Homo sapiens: one gene and its partners. The protein of the gene in region 1 interacts with the protein of each later gene in a biochemical or structural test. Each region holds a gene or a part of one and is shown in the gene's direction. Other genes may lie near its edges.

Evidence for each region. The genes of interacting proteins can lie anywhere in the genome.
Region 2: the proteins of HNRNPM (region 1) and LONRF2 form a complex in vitro, tested with the Homo sapiens proteins (one study listed by BioGRID).
Region 3: the proteins of HNRNPM (region 1) and CDC5L form a complex in vitro, tested with the Homo sapiens proteins (one study listed by BioGRID and IntAct).

What each region holds. Positions count from the first base shown.
Region 1 is NC_000019.10:8,461,968-8,468,996, forward strand, and holds part of HNRNPM (heterogeneous nuclear ribonucleoprotein M), read left to right. Parts: intron 1-561; coding exon 562-614; intron 615-1,529; coding exon 1,530-1,537; intron 1,538-1,625; coding exon 1,626-1,719; intron 1,720-3,356; coding exon 3,357-3,548; intron 3,549-4,267; coding exon 4,268-4,421; exon of another isoform or gene 4,422-4,647; intron 4,648-5,534; exon of another isoform or gene 5,535-5,567; coding exon 5,568-5,617; intron 5,618-6,806; coding exon 6,807-6,867; intron 6,868-7,029. UniProt on the Homo sapiens protein: Pre-mRNA binding protein in vivo, binds avidly to poly(G) and poly(U) RNA homopolymers in vitro. Involved in splicing.
Region 2 is NC_000002.12:100,271,374-100,277,529, reverse strand, and holds the end of LONRF2 (LON peptidase N-terminal domain and RING finger protein 2), read left to right. Parts: 3' UTR 1-5,655; downstream 5,656-6,156.
Region 3 is NC_000006.12:44,383,619-44,390,706, forward strand, and holds the start of CDC5L (cell division cycle 5-like protein), read left to right. Parts: upstream 1-4,087; 5' UTR 4,088-4,205; coding exon 4,206-4,250; exon of another isoform or gene 4,251-4,301; intron 4,302-6,649; coding exon 6,650-6,753; intron 6,754-7,088.

The sequences.
Region 1 (7,029 bases):
AGCATTAAACCAAGCTCAGGGCCCCTGAGTGCGGGGCTCTGTACAATTGCACGAGTTGCTCACCTGTGAAGCTGGCCCTGCGGCCGTGTGTGCCTGTGAGCTTATACCTTCGCATACGTGCGTCCTTGTATTTATAGCATGTGAGCTCAGCCCGATGGCATCGCAATTTGTATGCATTTCACCTGCTTGCCACCAATGAGAGCGTATGTGTAAAACCTCCTCCCTTCCCCAGAAAAGTAAATCACGCAGACTTCTTTCCTATAGATTTGGATTGCCTCTAGTCATGAATGAGTCTTCCAGACAGGGAAATTGATACGGAAATCTGTGGAATAGCTTGTTTGTGGTGGGAGGAAAATCAAGGACATATTGTTAACGTGTTTTCACCTACTTTTACTGCACACCTGTAATGCCTAGTTCGGTGGTTTAGAGAATATGGAGTGTTTCTGGGCTTTCTTATAAGGCAGAGGCTCCATACAAGGTTGCTGATGATTGTTCTAAATTCCCATTGTTTTCTTGGCTTTTCTCCCTTGGTTTATGTGTCGTCTGGAAACTGATTTGTAGTTGGTGAGGTAACATACGTGGAGCTCTTAATGGACGCTGAAGGAAAGTCAAGGGTAAGTGTCTGAGAGAATTTCTTCTGTGGATTTACTACATGAAAAATGTAACTGTATGGTGGCGTGGAATCGAATGAAATCAGGAAGGCAGTGAGTGCTCATGTTACAGTAGCTATGTTTGATTTTGCCAAACATTTGAGTGGGGTGGGAGGGGATTTGCAAATGGGAGTCCCGCTTTTCCAAATGGCTGGCCAAAGAGCTTTTTGGTATTCTGTTTGGATGCCCAATTTGGATAACTGGGGACCAATAGCAGCATTGTCTCTTTGTTAACAGAGGAATTGGCTGTGTGTGAATTATGCATGGAATTTTAGCGGTGGTATAATTAATGTAAAACGTGTGTTCTTGTCTAGAAAATGTTACTCTTGGTTGTTTGCTGAATTTGAAAGTTGTGTGAACCAAAGATTCCGAAAAGTTGCCTTTGTGCCAGTAAATTGTAAACCAAATATTAAAAACCTGAATGTTCAAAATTGGCCTAGTTTAAAGAGAACATAAACTATTTTCTGTCGTGCAATAGAATGGCTTAGAATAATCAAAAGGATGAGCTTAACTTACGGAAGGGATGGATTTAGGAGGAATATGGTAAGGACTCGATTGAGTACAGAGGGAAGCAGATCTAAAGTTGGTGTGATTTCTTGGAGACCCTGAATTTAGGTCTGCTTATTAAATGTCAGCAGCTCTAGTGCAATGCTGGTAACGCGTAGGAGAAGGAGATATTAAGGAGCCCAGCTTTTAACAAGGAAGGCGAGGCGAGGCACTTCTGTCAGCTTCCCCTTAGAAGGGTTCATTTTAAAAGACTAACTTTGTGACATAAATCATATTTTTAGTTTGTTTATAACTGTCATTGATATTTACTATTTTTTTCTTTTCTTTTTCCCCTTCCTTGCTCTTCTGACTGGTCTCTGGCTTCCTCCAAAGGGATGTGCGTAAGTATCGTCTAGTTACTTATTGGTATTTGAGCCTTCTAACTTGTAGGACTGGTTTCACTCGACTCGTTTCCTTTTGACTCTATAGTGTTGTTGAATTCAAGATGGAAGAGAGCATGAAAAAAGCTGCGGAAGTCCTAAACAAGCATAGTCTGAGCGGAAGACCACTGAAAGTCAAAGAAGTAAGCTCTTGCTTAACACTGCGGATACTGTGTGTAATTGTTGAGTGATCCTACTTTGGAATTAGGGAAAGACGGTCATGGTCCCAGACGGCATTTACAAAGCAAGTGCCAGCCTGTTGTTTCTAATGAAGAGTGTCGGTCATAGCCTACAGCAGCCATTCCCTGCAAGGACTTTGGGGTGGTGGCCAAGCAGATCCTGAGTGGCTGCTGACCACCTTCTAATATCTGTGATTTGTCTGAGGCCTTGTTGTCTCAGGGACTCTCAAACCATGAGCCCGTGGGTTTGTGCCATTAAGTTTTACTCCATCTGACCCTTCTTCTTGGCCCATCTTTTTTCTTTTTTTAAAAAGTGAGTTTGTTCCAGCCTGGGCAACATGGTGAAACCCCCTCTCTACAAAAGGTACAAAAATTAGCCAGGCATGGTGGCGCATGCCTGTAGTCCTAGCTACTTGGGAGGCTGAGGCAGGAGGATCATTTGAGCCCAGGATGTGGAGGTTGCAGTGAGCTGAGATTGCACCATTGCACTCCAGCCCGGGCAACAGTGAGACCCTGTCTAAAAAATAAAAAAATAAAGTGAGTTTGTTATTCCTCAAACCTGCTTTCACATCTCATCTGAATCAAATATATTCCTTGAGGAAGAAGGTTTTTTTGTTGATTAAATCCCTCTTGGCTGGGCGCAGTGGCTCACGCCTGTAATCCCCAGCACTTTGGGAGGCTGAGGTGGGTGGATCAAGGTCATGAGTTCAAGACCAGCTTGACCAACATGGTGAAACCCTGTCTACTAAAAATACAAAAAATTAGCTGGGCGTAGTGGGGGGTGCCTGTAATCCATCTACTCGGGAGGCTGAGGCAGGAGAATCGCTGGAACCCAGGAGGCGGAGGTTGCAGTGAGCCGAGATCGCGCCATTGAACTCCAGCCTGGGCAGTAAGAGCAAAGCTCTGTCTCAAAAAAACATCCCTCTTAACTTCTTTTCACCTCTTCTCTTGGGGAGGAAGATGAGTAGATTCAGAGTGAAGCTTGGTAGGGTCTAAGGTCTCTCATGTGTTATGATGTCTTTTTTAGTGCTGATGGTGGTAATTGACAGGACAGAGAGTTGAAGAAGAGAGTCAGTACAGAGCTTCACAGACCTTCCCAGATGTTGTTTTACTGCGCAGCCCTCACACACACGCCTCCAACACCTGAAGGACTTGAAGGATGGGGGCGCTTGTGTGGTCTAGAACTGTTTCTCAAACTTCTGGAAGCCATTGACGGGGTTTGCAGAAGTTACAAAACCCCATTGATGAATTAGTAAGATTCAGCTATACCAAGCCCATGAAGCTCTAATTTCAGTCTGGCGGTTCTACATTATATCAGCTAATCATGTTTCCCTCCCTACCCTGCTTTTCTTTTTTACTTAGTGCAATTGAGAGCTGTGTTTTTAGTGCTACACTTCATGCCTTTTCTTCCTTTCCTATTTCTTTAGCTGGACTCTTCTAAGCTGGTAGTTGAGTTCATTTGACTTTCTTGTTAATAGATTTGAGAGATGCTTTCCAAACAACCTTTCAGTTTCTAAGTCTTGAGAATATCATTTACTGTGCAAGCATGGTTTGCGTTGTACTGGGTCAGTTAAACGTAACACCTTTTGTGCTTGTTTTAGGATCCTGATGGTGAACATGCCAGGAGAGCAATGCAAAAGGTGATGGCTACGACTGGTGGGATGGGTATGGGACCAGGTGGCCCAGGAATGATTACTATCCCACCCAGTATCCTAAATAATCCCAACATCCCAAATGAGATTATCCATGCATTACAGGCTGGAAGACTTGGAAGCACAGTATTTGTAGCAAATGTAAGTAAACAGAACCATCGTCTAAAGTAGAAAATCAGAACTTTATGAAATGACCTTGTCAATATGTTATAAAAGTAATTCTCACATTTGAGAAGAAAAATGTAAAGAAGGGTTTTGTTCTTGATTTCTTTAAAAATCAGCCTTATAGGCGGGCTTTGTCTGCATTCCTAAGTCACAGGCTTGACCGTGGTCTCGTTGGGGCTGTGATTCCTGAGTTTCGCAGGTGTTTCCGCAAGCAGTAACCGAGTCTGCATTCTCCGTTGGTTTATTTTATGCAGTTTTGGTGCAGAGTAAGACTGTACGAGCAGAAGTGCACTGACACCTTCCTCTTGTTGTGTCTGGGGTGAATGATAATACCTCCACCATCTGCAAGGGGAAATATTTTTAGAATAAAGTAGGTTGGGTGGGGTGGGGAGTGGTAAAGCTTATCAGGGAAACAATTTTTTAAAAATGTTCAGAAAATGAGTATTAATTTGAAGTATGAGGTGACTTAAGTTTCTGAGAAAAGAGACAATATATTTACTATAGGTACAGTTTATTTACAGTGAAGGCCAGGCTTTATAATCCTATTTTAAAATTTCCATTGCAGTTGATTAGTTTTTGTGACATTATTTCCTAATACTTTTTTCCAACCAAAGCATGTATCATTCATGTAGTAAAAATGTTGTGTTTCTTAAGATGTTTACATTGAGGTTTTTACCCCGTTCTCTCTCGATTAGCTGGATTATAAAGTTGGCTGGAAGAAACTGAAGGAAGTATTTAGTATGGCTGGTGTGGTGGTCCGAGCAGACATTCTTGAAGATAAAGATGGAAAAAGTCGTGGAATAGGCACTGTTACTTTTGAACAGTCCATTGAAGCTGTGCAAGCTATATGTATCCTTCTGCAGGAATTCAACTTATGAACAGTTTGACCTAAATTGCTGTGTTAGTAATGTAGGTTTGTGTGAGGAAGAGGTGACTGTGTGTATTCATGTTTTTTATGTGACTAGGGGGAGTGCATTACTGTGGAATTAAGAGGTTCTCTGGGCCGGACCGGTCACGGTGGCTCACGCCTGTAATCCCAGCACTTCGGGAGGCCAAGGCGGGCGGATCACTTGAGGTCAGTTCGAGACCAGCCTGGCCAACATGGTGAAACCCCGGCTCTACTAAAAAATGCAAAAATTAGCTGGGCGCAGTGGTGGGTGCCTGTAATCCCAGCTACTCGGGAGGCTGAGGCACAAGAATCGCTTGAACCCGGGAGGTGGAGGTTGCAGTGAGCCGAGATTGCGCCACTGCACACCACCAGCCTGGGTGATAGAGTGAGACTCAGTCTCAAAAAAAAAAAAAAAAAAAAAAAAGGTTCTCTGGGGGTGGAATTGATTCAATACAGTGTGGATAGAGGGGATGGTTACAACATGGGCATATGCCCATGAGTCTTTCTACTGTTTTCTTTTCAGAAGAGTCTAGGTTTGAAGGAGGAAGTCCAAAGAATGTGCTACTAGAGAGAAAGTGGGGTTGTTGTTTCATGTGTAATACATCCTTATAGGACCTCACTCTTTCCAGTGAGTAGACATCATTTTGGAAGAGGCCACTTCTCCTTGACCCTAGGCTTAGCCTAGAGTTTTTAATCCCTTGGAGAGTACCCCACAGGAGCACATTCATACAACTCAGACAAGACCGTCACTGCATGTCTTACCCAGAAAACATGGTCCTTCAGTTTAGATAGTGGTAGATGCCTGGCCCATTGGTCACATTCAGAGAACCTTGATGCCACTGCTTAAGAGGATGGTTTGGTGAAATTGTAAGGTTACGAATGAAGCTTCACACCTAAGGAATAAGCGGAAGTTGTCTTGTCCTCCCCGCCAGCTTTATTTATTGTTCCTTTTATGTTTATTGTTGAAAGTATAATGAAGAATTGAAATTGCTCATAAATTCATCACTTAGAGGGACTGGTAGCAGTTGGAGTATTTTTCTTTCTTTTTGTATTTCTCTTGTGCACATTTTTAGAATTGCAAGAAATAGCCTTAATTGTAATACCAGCTATGTTCAATGGCCAGCTGCTATTTGATAGACCAATGCACGTCAAGATGGTAAGTCAGTAGGATCTTTCTCTGTGATATACTCAAGTCTAGCAAAAACATGGAATTAATAAGAGTGTACATATAGCCACTATGAAATATTTGTGGATTAGTCTAAGTTAAATAGGGTGCAGTATGTTGAGCAAAATTGTGAGAGAAATAACATTTTGCTGGTCAGGCGTGGTGGTTCACGCCTGTAATCCCAGCACTTTGGGAGTCTGAGGCAGGCGGATCATGAGGTCAGCAGTTCGACACCAGCCTGACCAACGTGGTGGAACTCCTCCGTCTCTACTAAAAATACAAAAATTAGCCGGGCGTGGTGGCACGCGCCTGTAGTCCAGCTACTCGGGAGGCTGAGGCAGGAGAATCACTTGAACGTGGGAGGCAGAGGCTGCAGTGAGCCGAGATCGTGCCACTGCACTCCAGCCTGGGCAACAGAGTGAGACTCTGTCTCAAGAAAAAAAAAGAAGAAAAAAAAACATTTTGCTCATGGCAGCTCTTGACTGCATTAGATATTTTTCCTTTTGCACAGTTGACTGTTCATGGCGCATTCAGGAAGTCACCTGGGTATCCTGGTTGAGCAAGTGATCCGTTTCAAAGAATGGTTATATATGTGGGGTTCCAGTTTTTCAAAGTATTACAGTATAATGTTTGGTTAGCATCAAATCTGTTGTGAACATAATTAAGTCATTGATTCAGACAGCTTTTAAAGGTCTGTTGGAGCACTTCAATCTTAATAAACATTTGCTCTGCCGTAACTGTGCCAAAGATAATAATTACTACAGGCATGACTGGAACATGCTGAGGGCAGTCTAGTTGGGACTCAAATTCAGGAAAAAGATAAACTATAAAGCAATTTTTTCATTACTCTAAATAGAGTAGGTAAGTTTTTTGAATAGATGATAGATTCACGTGACTCAAAAGTCAAAAGGCATGAAAAGGTAGTGTGAAGATAGTGTGAGTCCTACTTGGACTTCTTGCCCAGGTCCCCATCATCCCCCACAATAATATCCATGTGTCTTTTCCCTTGACATAAAATAGGAAGCATGCTCCGCATGCCTTTCTACCCTTGCGTATTACTCCATGGCGTGGATAATGTGTTTAGCTGGTCCTCTCTTGATGGGGGGCCATTTCAGTCTTTTGCTGTTGCAAACACTGCTGCACTGGATACTGAGATTTGTTTGTTTTCTTTCTCTTTCAGGATGAGAGGGCCTTACCAAAAGGAGATTTCTTCCCTCCTGAGCGTCCACAACAACTTCCCCGTAAGTGTTTCAGTGATTAGGGCTGAGAGTTTGAATTGGAGTTACACTAATAAACAGAAAATTACCATATGGTTTCACTTGAACCTGTGCCAGGTTAGCCCTCAGTTCTCTTGGCCAGTTCTTTTCTATAGATTTTTCAGGGTGAGAAATGAGCAGAGATTC
Region 2 (6,156 bases), on another chromosome or scaffold:
ATGACCTCACAAGGGACTGAGGACATGGGAGACCACCCTCCTGTGGGTAGAATACACCAGAGGGCCCAGGCTTGACTCTGTCCTGTGTTAAGGAGGCATCGGTAGTTTTGCTGAGCTTGTCAGGTGTTTATAATGGACAGTTGGAGATTGGGGTCCTAGGCTTAGGTCTTTGAGAGCCTCTGTGTCCAGGAGAGCCCAGTAGGCATCCAGCCATTTACTGCTTTAATAGGGTAGCATGAGGCTGAGAGGGATAGTTTCTTGCATCCAAAGCCCTTAGGCACCTTATGTCCATCCTAAGTGGGCCAGAGACTCCAGGGCTGCATAGAGCTTGCCAGAGCTTCTATAATGAAGGGGTCTCTGAGGGCACCAACAGGAGTGCCCATGGATTTTAAGGTTTGATTATAGAGGTTGTTTATGGAGGGTGCCCCATTTAAAGCAAGCTGATTTGTAAGCAGCAGCAAGAAGATTAAGTAAAATTTGTAAATGAGGACTACATTGCCATCAGAACCTCGAAAGTATCTAAAGATGTTGGACTTGTATGTCCTTAATGAGTGTGACAATGAGTTTCCTCATTTGTGCTCCTGGAGAAGGCGGATGTGGTGAAGACCCTGTCTGCAGACATTGTGTGCCATGGCAAAGCCGTGGAGCTCCCTGTGGGTGGCCTGCAAAGGTGTATGTGCCCCTCAGGGCAGAAGGCAAACGGCAGCCAAGAAGCTGTGCAAGTAGACACTTAATGGGACATGTTAGCCAAATCTGTAAGAGCAAAATATTGGCCAGTTATTTATTGTGTAGAATTAATAATTTTAATAATAATGGAAATTGGGTAATGGATGGGACTGCAGCAATAAGGTTGTAGTAATCCACCATGAGGCACACTTGTTTTTTTCCAGGTTTAAGGATAGGAAAGATTGGGCTGTTCAATGGAGAAACAAGGGTATAATCACCCCTTTATTAATTAGTAAGTTTTAATCCTTGAATACCTCATATTAACTGTTTTAACTGGAGGTCCATGGGGCATCATTTTATCAAGCTAGTTTATAACTGCCAAAGACTGACTTTAATTTTAATTTATTATTTGTTTTATTAGAGTGTCTGTGTTCAATATGGGATATTAGGGCGTTGGGTACTATGACCACAGGAAATTTAGACAGGCTACAGTTAAAGTGAAGCATACCTTACCCATCCACCCCCCATTTTATATTTAGTTGCCTTTTTAAAAAGATTATAGGGGTACAATGTTTAGATTTAGTGGGATCTCCAGGTATAACTGTAATTTGAGCCCCAGTGTTAAGACTATGAAGCTTTGTCAATGGGTACATTTTAGCAAATGTTACAATTAATTTAGAACCTAAGTTATGGAGACACAAAAGCCAATAGGCACCCTTTTATGTTTTGGTTAAATGTTTCAGTATATACATCTTATTTATTTGTAATATTAGTATATAATTTGTTGTATACATTTTTAGTGTATAAGCGTTGGATTTCTAATTGGATCAGATTAGGGACCTTCCGTTTAGCTGCATATGTACATATACATGTACAATTTATTATATATTTGCGTTAAAATAGCCTATCTGCATGTGTATATATGTGTGTATGTGTATGTATATGCACTCACACGCATAAATACACAGTCTATTTAGTTACCTTTAATGTTTTTTCCCTTGTACCTAGGCTTTTTCTCGCTTTTTCCTTTTTTTCTGATTTTGTGGCAATTTAGTTGGAAGGAGGCGGTCCCAGCATGTTGACAGGCAGGGTGTTCAGAGTGCCCAGGCACACTGGTGGGGGGTGGTTACAGGCTCACGTAGCTCAGGGGCTTCTGCAGGTCTCAGGGGAGTGGGAACAAAGTGTCCCACCCCTTCCCCTTTTCCTCAAACCTCAAGCCACTGGTCTCTATGGATAGATCCTTTGCATCCCACCGGATTGAGGAATGAGTCACAACAGCTGCAAGGCTCTTAAAGCAACATTTAAACCTTTTGGCGGCTGTCATTTCTGTGAGGAGGGTGCCTCTCACCGGCCGCATGGCCGGAGGATCCCTGCAGCGCTTTGGAGACCAACACCCAGATCCTTTGCCCAGGAGTGCGATTAATTCCTCACTGGATGCTGGGGGAGGGCCCCTCAGGTGAGCAGCCCACCACTGACTTCAGCGTTGCTGGCTCGGTTATCAGACTCTCATCCAACACAAGCTCACAGGGAAAGCCGTTCCTTGCTCCTTGTGGAGGGAGCTACCGTCATTGCCCTGAGACCACCAGCCAAGAAAGTAGGTATGTCCAGGTAGGGAATTCAGAGGGACCCAGTGCATCCAATTATACAATTATACCCAGAAGGTCCTGTGTAGGGGACTGCGATTGACATCACCCTAGTCTGCAGCACCAAGGACTGAATGAGCTCAGTCCTCTTATAATTTAGGCTGGACTGTCACAGACACTGGCAGACACAGCATACGTGGTGCAGCCAAAGTGCAAACATGCCAGCAGCGGCCATGCTCCCCAGGGTGGGGGTCCAGTTAGTAAGCCACGCGCAGCCAAGAGGCGAGGCATGCCCTGTGCCACACACGGACTCACCCTGCTCACTGTGCCCGTGGTATCGAAATGTACCCACGTTTAATTCATAAAGGAGAGGCTGCTGTCATTGAAAGAAAAGTTTGTTACTTGCATTTCTGGAGAAAAGGAGCGCACCAGGCCACGCAGGGCCACAGGAGGAGGACGCACCAGAGTGGTCAGGAGGCAGAACTAGGCGAGCAGCTTTCCACTGTGTCTCCATGGCAAAGGCGAAGATGGGCGGGGGCAGAGTGTAGGATTGGCAGGTTTGAATGTCTTGGGCAGTAGCTACAGGGGTGGTCTCCAGCTGCCTGGTGCCTGGCCCTGGGTGATCAGGGTGAGGGGATACTGCCTTCTGCAGTGGAAGAGTCAAATCGAGGAGATGGACTCTGAGTTGGTTAGTGTGCAAAGGTGCACTCCCAAGGGACCCCTTTGCTATCTCTAAGAATTGGCCTGCCCTGGGAAGGGCAGTCTCTCCCCAGTCAGTGAGGTCCCCAAGATGTGAAAACATTATACATTATAAAAAAGCATGATTAATATAAGCTCATTCTAGCATTTCAGGTTACAGCTTCTAGAAGAGGTTTGTAGTCTCAAATGAGTAGGTTTTTCCTCTAGAGAGGGGCGGGCCTGGACCTTCAAGCACCCCTTGGTGTGTTTAGGAGCTCAGGAGCAGAAGCACCTGCCTGCAGCCCTGCAGCTAAGGAAGTTCTCTCAGTCACTCAGAGCAGGGAGGGGCTGAGAGAGTCATGTGAGGCTCCCGGGGTACTACGACAGCCCTCGAGGTGAAGGATTGGCCCTGATCATAATAGAGAACCCTGAGGAAGTTTACTGTCATGAGTCTCGGCTGGTTGGCGCATGTGACCTTTGAAGGATGAAGATGGAGTTTGCAACATGAGTATCTCTAACCTTTTGCTTTTCAGGGATCATTTTCAAAAATTGCATTGGGGCCTTCGTTATTTACCATAGTATTTTCACTTTCATAGTTTTGTCACCTTTTTGTACTGTGAACAGTTCAACCAGTGACCGACTTCTCTCTCATGCTGTTTACCCCACACACAATTTCCCACTCAATTCTGAAAATAAGAACCTGTTAATAGGTTGGAAAGCTGTGTACTCTATTCATATATTGTTCTTTCATGCTAGTGGAGAGTGGTGTCATTAGCATCTTAATTTTAGAGTTGTGAAATGATTTTACCAATTAGGAATTGAATGTGTATTTTTTTTCTGTTTAATAAGAAGAGCAAATTTGAATAAATAAGCTGGTGTAGATAAACTTAATAATCATGCTTTTTCTTGTTTGGAGATAGGTGATGTGTTGTCATATCCTGTGATACAGGTCACTCATCTGGCCTTCTGTTTCTGAAGTTTAAGTCTGGTTTGAATATGTAATAATACTACTCAGCATTTCTTGTTGCCTAAGTGAGACGAAACTTAAATGTTATGATATTTACTTCATGTATTCTTGTACTGTTCATTTCAATTAATTGGTATTGTATATCTAATATGTGATATTTGAACTGAATAAAACTTACAGTGTTGTAAATGTTCTTTAATAAATAATCACACCTAAGTAATAGGCTAGACTGATGAGAAATTAGATCAAATCAGTGCCTAGGCCTTTGTGTTTGTGTCGTAGGGATGTACTAACACATCACCACAGACTGACGGCTTTTCACAATAAATCAGTTTTCTTCGCTCACATTTCTGGACATTAGAAATCCAAAGCCAAGGTGCCAGTAGGGCCGGGCTTTCTCTGAAGGCCCCAGGAAAACTCCTCCTTCATCTCCTCCAGCTGGTGTGGCTGCTGGCCGACCTCGGCCTTCCTCGGCCAGCGGCTGCATCACTCCAGTTTCCGTGTCCATCGTCACATGGCCTTCTTCCCTCTGTGTGTCTGTGTCCAGATATCCCTTTCCTTATATAAGGACACCAGTCATTAGATTTAACTTCCACCCTAATCCAGGATGACCTCATCTTAACTTGATTACATCTGCAAAGACTGTATTTCCAAATAAGGTTATATCCACAGGTTCTAGTGGACATGAATTTTAGAGGAACAGTATTCAACACAGTGCAGATGTGGAACGATTCCAATTTAATTTTAGTAGGAAAAAAAAGGAAAGAGGGCTGCCAATGGCTTTGGCTTAAAACCATAATTACTTTTAAAAATCATTTCTATCCAAGGCAGATAAGATTTAATAAGAACTGAAGCTTGTATAGTTGTTTATTTGGGAGGAAGGGGGTAGTGCTTCTTAAGAAAAGGAATATGAATTGCAAATACTGAGTTAACTATGAAAGCATATATTTATTTGGAATTTTTAGAGGCATAAATTACAATATTTAAAACAGCATAACACTCTACAAAATACTGAAAAGTATTTTTATTAACTTCCTGGCACCTTTATGATACCTTTCCCATCTTTTTTTTTCTTTTTTTTAACCTACATACTCTGGTTAGTTTGTTTGTTTATTTATTTATTTATTTTCTTCTTGGGGGACATGGTCTTGCTGTGTCATCCAGGCTGGAGGGCAGTGGTACAAGCATAGCTCACTGCAGCCTCAACCTCTTGGGTTCAAAGGATTGTCCTGCCTCAACCTTCTGAGTAGCTGGGACCACAGGTGCATGCCGCTATACCCGGCTAATTTTTTTACTTTCTATGGAGACGAGGTCTAGCTGTGTTGCCCAAGCTGGTCTCAAATTCCTGGGCTCAAGCAGTTCTCCCACCTTGGCCTCCCAAAGTGTGAGATTGCAGGCATAAGCCACTGCACCTAACCCTGCATACTCTTTGATCATCTTTTTCTTCTTAGGACAATCTTGTGTTGGTTACTAAAGAGAGAATGATATTTAAGTTCTTCCTCTAACATGGATATGGGGCAAAAATCATAGACTAAAAGTTTCAGTTTTCACAAGTCATTATTGGTAATGTCATTTAAATAGGATGGTTGTCAAATCTGGGAAAACCTCTGATGAAGTCTTTTATATGTGAGTTGTAAGGATCAGGCATTTTCCCGCTTCCTCATGCAGTGACTAATCTTAACTCCTTCAGCACTGTTGGATGAAACTTTCTGTGATGACGGACATTGTTGGAAATAAAGCTCGGAGTCATAAGGAAAATGAGTACTTAGACATGCTCTGTATTTGTGCTGTACAGTATGGTAGCCACCAGCCACATGTCACTTTTGAGCACTGACGATGTGGTTAGTGTGGCTGAGAAACTAAATTTTTTATTTAATTTGATTTTAACATTTGGCTTTTCCTCCAGAAAGCTGCCCCCTCCCGGCCCCGTGGCCCACCTCTGTGTCCCCAGCTGGGCCTCCCTCCAGGCCCAGTGACTGTGTCCACTGACTGGGGCCTGAGCCAGTGGATTTGGTGAAAACTAACCAAGGTTTATTATAAACAAAACTGTCCACCTCACTCACCCACCTGAATATGCTTGGAATGACTATTGAATCAATATGTTTAAAAATGAACAGGCGTATGCTTCTGGACAGGTTCCTCTTTATGTTCTTGAGATCTTTTCCTTCCTTTCCACATGAAGTCAGGTGTTTCAGTCAGGATGGGCTACATGATGCTGTGGTAAGAAGCATCCCCCACATCTCAGTGCTCTCCGTGGCAAAG
Region 3 (7,088 bases), on another chromosome or scaffold:
TAAACATTGAAATAAGTGTAAGCTATGCATACATTTAAGAAAGATTAGGCTGGGCACGGTGGCTCATACCTGTAATTTCAGCACCTTGGGAGGTCAAGGGGGGCAGATCACTTGAGCTCAGGAGTTTGAGACCAGCCTGGGCAACATGGTGAAACCCCATTTCTACAAAAAAATACAAAACTTAGCCAGGCATGGGGGTGCACGCCTGTAGTCCCAGCTACTCGGGAGGCTGAAGTTGGAAGATTGCTTGAGCCAGTGGGGTGGGGGTCAAGGCTGCAGTGACCCGAGACTGTGGCACTGCACTCCAGCCTGCACAGAGTGAGACTCTGTCTCAAAGAAAAGAAAAGAAAAGAAAGATTAATAAAAACAAGAAATGTACTCCCGCTTATTCCAGTTCAGGGTTACAGGTGGCCGGAGCCTATCCTGGCACAAGGCAGGAATCAGTTCTGGACAGCACACAGGACACCATCCCATTGCAGGGCACACTCACACACCCTGACACTCACTCAGACTGCAGGCTTGCAAATGAACCTCACCTGCACAGCTTTGGGATGTGGGAGGAAACCAGGGTATCTGGAAGAAACCCACACAGACAGTGGCCCTGGCCTCAAGCGGATTTTTTTTTTTTTTTGAGATGAGGTCTCGCCCAGGGTGGAGTGCAGTGGTGTGATCATGGCTCACTGCAGCCTCGACCACCCAGGCTCAAGTGATCCTCCCATCTCAGCCTCATGGGTAGCTGGGATCACAGGTGTGCACCACCATGCCCAGCTAATTTTTAATATTTTTGTAGGGATGGGGTCTCACTATGTTGCTCAGGCTGGTCTCAAACTCCTGGGCTCAAGCAATCCTCCTGCCTTGGCCTCCCCGAGTGTTGGAATTACGGGCATGAGCCACCATGCCTGGACTCATCAATGTTATCATGAAACGATCTTGCACAAAATGATGTTATTCAAGGATCTGCTGTATTAACAAAGGAGTGTATTAGCTTCCTAGGGCTGCCACAAGAAAGCACAATAAACTAAGTGGCTTAAAACAAGAGAAATGTATTCTCTTACAGTTCTGGAGGCTGGGAGTCCAAAATCAAAGTGTCAGCAGGGCTGGCTCCTTCTTGGGGCTCAGAGGGAGAATGTGTTCCATGCCTTCTCCTGGCTTCTGGTGGCTGCCAGAATCCTTGGCATTCCTTGGCTTGGAGCTGCATCACTCCAATCTCTGCCTCTTTCTTCCCATGATATTCCCCCTGTGTGTCTGTATCTTTTTTCTTCTCCACTTATAAGGACACTACTCATTGGATTTAGGGACAACCTACTCCAGTATGATCTCATTTTAACTTGATTACATCTGCAAAGACTCTATTTCCAAATAAGGTCACATTTACAGGTAGCAGGGGTTAGGACTTGAACATATCTATTTGGGGGGAATACAATTCAACTCTCAACAGGGAGAAACAGATTTTTTCATCTGACAGCTTCTTACAGGCTTTAATTTCAGTGACTCTGCAAGAGGGGAGGACATAAAAACCATGTTTTTTTTTATTTTTTGTTTTTTTTTAAATGGAGTATTTTATGTAACTGGTGTTCTAAGGAACATGTTTGGGGAAAAATGCCTTGGGTGAGTGAGACTATTTAGCAGTGGCCACTCACTTTACCAAAGATTCACAGTGACTGACCATATAGTCTGGTTGCCTAACGATAGATGCTTCTTATGGCTGTCCCTCAAGAGATTGTTGGCAGTCCCTGTGGCCTCTTTGTAAGGGTTCCCATACCTGGCTGGTGAGGCTGCAGTAGTATGGTGGGGGAGGCTGGCCAAGCAGGCCATCCTGGAGAACAGTGTGTTTGTGTTCTGATGTTTGTGGCTACAGTGCTCTGGTTTCAGACATCCTGGAACTTCCATGATGTTGCATTTTTCTGAATTCTGAAAGGGAATATACAATCTGCATGTTCAAAGGTGAAATGAGGGACAGTTGACAGGGCTGTTTTACCTGGATGAGTAAGTTGTACAATGCATGTCTCTAGGGGTGGAATTCACATAGTGGAGATGGTAGATCCAATTTTCTTGTAATAGAGTGCCCTGTTCTCAGAACACCAGTATTTTGTGACAATTTTCCAGCATGTGGCATAAAGTGTCTTGAGGAAGGGGCACCTTTTTCTAGTTCTCACAAAAGTAACATATGGTAAAGAGGTGGCCCTGAGTGGGAGGGAGAAGCCTTCATCAACTCTTGGAATGTGAGATCTGAAAGGCCTCTGACAGAGTATTGGTCCATCTCTGGAATTGTTAGGACTCTTCCTTACAAATAATAGAAACCCAATTCCAAGTGGCTAACACAAATAGGAAACTAATAATCAGAATGCAAGGACAGGAATGCAGCTGGGACTCAGGAACATGCTGGATCCAGGTACTCTGACATGGTCAGGACTTACATCTCTCTCTTTACCTGCTTTTTTCCCTTAGTCCAAAACATGGTGGTAGACAACTCCTGGGTGTCACGTGTTGGATGTTCAGCAGTCAGTAGAGACTGACCTCCTCTATGCTCCAGTGTTAAAATCTCGAAGACCTAGTATTTGATAGCACAACAGGGTGACTATAGTAAAAAATAATTTAATTGTACATTTAAATTAACTAAAAGATTATAATTGGATTGTTTGTAAAACAAAAGATAAACACTTGAGATGATGGATACCCCATTTACCCTGATGTGATTATTATGTGTTGTATGCCAGTATCAAAATATCTCATGTACCCCATAAATATGTGTGTACTATGTACCCACAAAAATTAAATATAACAAATTAAAAAAAAACCGCCCCATTACAGGAGAGGTCCAAATGAAAACATTTTGTTTGAGTTTAACTGGCCACAGGTCCAATGGTTTCTTATACACCACACAGTGGGTAAACAGCTCAAGGGCGGGCTGCCCGCCAGCATAAACCTTTGAGTGGCAAACACTACCAGGGTGGCCATGGAAAATGCCCTCTTGCTGACCATAATTGCACAGAATGTGTGTAAATAAAAGCTAAAAGGAAAAAGAAAATTCTGTAGCTCTTCCAGAAGAGGCAAACGGAGAAATGAAGAAATATAAAGAGATAGGCACTATATAAATACTAAGTACTATAAATAGGGCATTTCCCAACCCACTAAATATTTTGATATTTTCCAGGGATGGAGCCAGAGATGTTCTGGAAGGATGAAGGAGACTGCATGAGTAATTGGGGTGGGGTAGCAGAGAGTTTGCCAATCCCTACCTCACTGGGTTTTAGTTATGTTTCAGTTAATCTGCCTCCTCATTTACGAGGCGGGTATTGTTAGCTCCACTTTTCAGATGAGGATACTGAGATTCAGTAAGGTTATTACCCAAACTTATGAGAAAGCCAAGATTTCACAATATTTCAACCCAACTCGACTTTGTCTAATACCAGTGCGTACCAATGGCATTATTAATCCAGACTGGGCGATGAATTAAAAACTCTGACGTGACGTTTCTGCAGGTTTCTGGAAGAAGCCTGGATCACCTGGGGACGGGGTGAAGTTGGCGTTGCCCTCCTTGCAGTAATAGCTGCTATTGTTTTGCAGCAGTTATTATGGATCAGATACTGTGCTGGGTCTATGATCTCATTTAGCCCTTACGACAATCCTGTGAGGTTGGCATTACTATGATCTCTATTTTACAGGTTAGGAAACTGAGCCTTAAATAAACTACTGGATTTTCCTGAGTATTCTGTGAATAAATTCCTATTACTGAAATACTTGAAAGGGCTAGATTAATAAATTAACAAAGCCTTCTTCGGAGCAACTGTGCTGAAATTCCGTACGCGTGACGTTCCCACCCTCTGCCACTCGGTGACGTCACGATCAATCCCACCACTAAGTTCCCAGCCAAGCGCTACCGCCGCTATCTCGCGAGAGCCGTAGTTTCTTCCATTCTGTTTTGGACATGCGCGGGGCGTAAGGCGCTTTGGCCAGAGTGGTTTGATGGTTTTGTGTTAGTCTTCCTGCAGCTGAGCTTCCACAAGACACTTTTTCCCTTTCAGCCACCCAATATCTCGCGAGACTTGCTATTCTGCGCCCCCTCCCACCTTGCGCTTGCGCAGATCTTCAAAGCAGAAGGTCGCGCTTGGAGGAAGTGGCGGCTTTGAGTCCGGTGGCCCAATCGCTGTTACTACTTCTCTGAAGCTCCTCTCGGCTGCTTGCCGAGACACCCTGCCGCCAAGATGCCTCGAATTATGATCAAGGGGGGCGTATGGAGGAATACCGAGGTAAGTCTCCTTTTCCCGCCGTCCGCTGCCCGCCGCTCCCTCTAGCAGCTTGTGCGCACGCGCGCGGAGGTCGGGGGGGCGACGAGGAGACCCTGTGGGGTCTGCGTGGAGGGCAGCCCGGGGGCTGACCCTTGGGGCCCTTTCCGTGTGTCTGGCCCCGTGTTGTGCGAGCGCCAGTAGGACAGGGACCGTGATGTCACCACCTGGCTACTCGGCTCCAAGCTCACTTGTTAGGCCCTGAGTGAACATTTGTTGACTTGAATACGCCCCCTCCCACCCCGCCCCCCCGCCCCCCCCGGCCCCGGGAAGAACTCAGAGTTCCAACTCAGCCAGAGTTGGTCCCCCGGGGCACCATCCACTCTTAGTCCAGGCACCACGACTCTGTCTCATACTCAGAAATAAAGAAGTTGCCGTGGCCACAACTTTGTGTCTCCATTGACTTCCTTGCAGAGGGGAAGCAGTTTGAGTGCCAGGTTCAGAGAGCCCGTTTATGCCCGCATCTCTCTGGTTATCTGTTATCAGGGCATAACCTGTCTGCCATCTCGACAGATCCCAAGGTCTGTCTCTTTCTGTCACTGCCTTTGCCTAGATAGAAGCCAGAAAGGAAAAACTGGCCTAGGATAGTCTCTGTTTCCAGAAACGTAGTGGATAGTGCCATTGGTGAGCCAAAGGGCAGTAGAGTGGGAGTGAAATAGAAATTAGATTTTAGTGCGTTTTGTGTTCAGAGTGTACCGAATTTATCAGTTTCTGGAGCACATCATGTCTTTTCATGCTCTGTGTCTTTTTTTCGTTACATTTTATGGCTTCTTTTTTTTTTTTTTTTTACATCTTTTGCCTTCCTAGCGCTTGACATCTTTCTGATCATCCTTCAAACCTAGTTCGGAAACACTTCTTGGAATCTCTGTAAGAATTAATTGCACCCCCGATATTCTCATGATACCTTTTTCTTCCGTTTGTTAAAACTTGCTTTGTCTTTTTGTAAGCATCACATCCTCTGTGTGGTACTCGGTAAGTTTCTTAACTTCTGAAAGCCTCAGTTTTCTACTTTTTCTAAATTGGGATAATAATACTTAACCTCTCTTGAGGATTACACGAGTTAATACGTTTGGAATATTTAGATCAGAGTAGGGCACATAGTAGCCTCTGAGTAAGAGCTAGTTGCTCTTTCACCTCACCAGACAGCATGGCGAGAGGACCAGGTCTTGGTATCCCTAGGACCTAGGACAGTAACCAACATGAAGTAGGTTGCTCGACAGGTATTTGCAGAATGAATCAAGTAGAGTAGGTATCTGCTGTATCTATTTAATTGAAAATGTGTTTAAGTGTAGTTGTACTGCAACCAAGTTACAAAAAAGACAATGAAAACTGCCTCAGCTTCCACCGAGGGAACCAGACTGTTTAAATTGGAGAAGAGATGACTTCTGAGGGAGAGACAGATATAAAATCAAGTAACAGTAGGATTCCTATGCAGTGGTCAAAGCTCTGCAGTCTTTTTAAAAAGTATCTTTGATCATGGGAGATGTAGAGGATGGAGTGGGGTATCTCAAGAGGCACGTACCTCAAATCCAATGTGGGAAAAAAAGCCTAGAAGTAAAATCGCCTAAGTGCATGCATCTATGGCTCCATTAACTTTCTTGTCTTTGGCTTGGCTTGCCAGGCTTCCTTGAGGTTGGTGCATTCCACATGGCAATGGGTGCCCTGGTGAAATGGTATCTAGAGATGGGGGGAAATTGGAAGGAGAGCTGACTAGTGGGGTTGGGGTAGAAATATGTAATTCTTAGGTTAGACCTGAGATGTGGATTCTTGGGTCATAGTTGGGGTTAAGGGGCTGGAGGGGAAATGCCATGTATAAACTTGAGACAGGAGGCTTGGATTGGAGAATATATTCACCAGAGTCCCAACTTGCTTCTTGAGGCCTGGATATGTCCTGTTTGATAAGACCTTTCCCCAAGGGAAAGGTAGATGTTTCAAGGTAGATGTTCAGGAAGTGTTTTTTGAGTGAGTGTATAAATGAATGAGTTATACATTTTTGTTGTTGTTGTGTTTTTTAGTTATCCTTTTTGAAGAGAAGGACAGCCACACGTTGAAGAATACTTTTTCTTAATTTTTGTCATAAAGTAGGGTTTCTCAGATTGGGCTGTTCCCACTCCCAATTTATTGGAGAGTGTGGTGTAAGGGTGGGTAGCTGTCTTTCTAAGGGATTTCTTCTTAATTTCTCAATTCTTGGTTGCTGTTATTATAGTTAATGAGGTTTTCATCCTTAGTCTTTTAACCTAGGTGGTGTGTATGTGCATGTTATATGTCTCTTTCTCCAATAGCCCTATCAGAGTTAATTTAAATTTTGTCTTTTCCCACTTGGAGTTTTGTGACTGAATGTACTCTTTGGCAATTTTTTTTAGGATGAAATTCTGAAAGCAGCGGTAATGAAATATGGGAAAAATCAGTGGTCTAGGATTGCCTCATTGCTGCATAGAAAATCAGCAAAGCAGTGCAAAGCCAGATGGTATGTATCAGTTTAATAAGTGGAAAACAGAAAAGGAGCTTAATTATGATGATGGAAAATGTCAACTCTGTGAACCTTATCAAAGAAAGCAGACATTGTAATATAACAAGGCATGGAGTGGGAGATGGAAGTTGGGTGTTTGACTTAGCTGTCACTTGCTTCCTGTGTGGTCTTAGGCAAGCCATTTTTCTATCCCTCTCCCCTGCCCTTGTTTTCTCCCAATTAGGGATAATAATACTTGGTCCTGACTGATAGAGATGTGAGTTGTCATCTAAATGGGTTAATGTATTTGAGAGTGCTTTGTGAAGCATACAAAGTCTACTTTCAGGGACAGA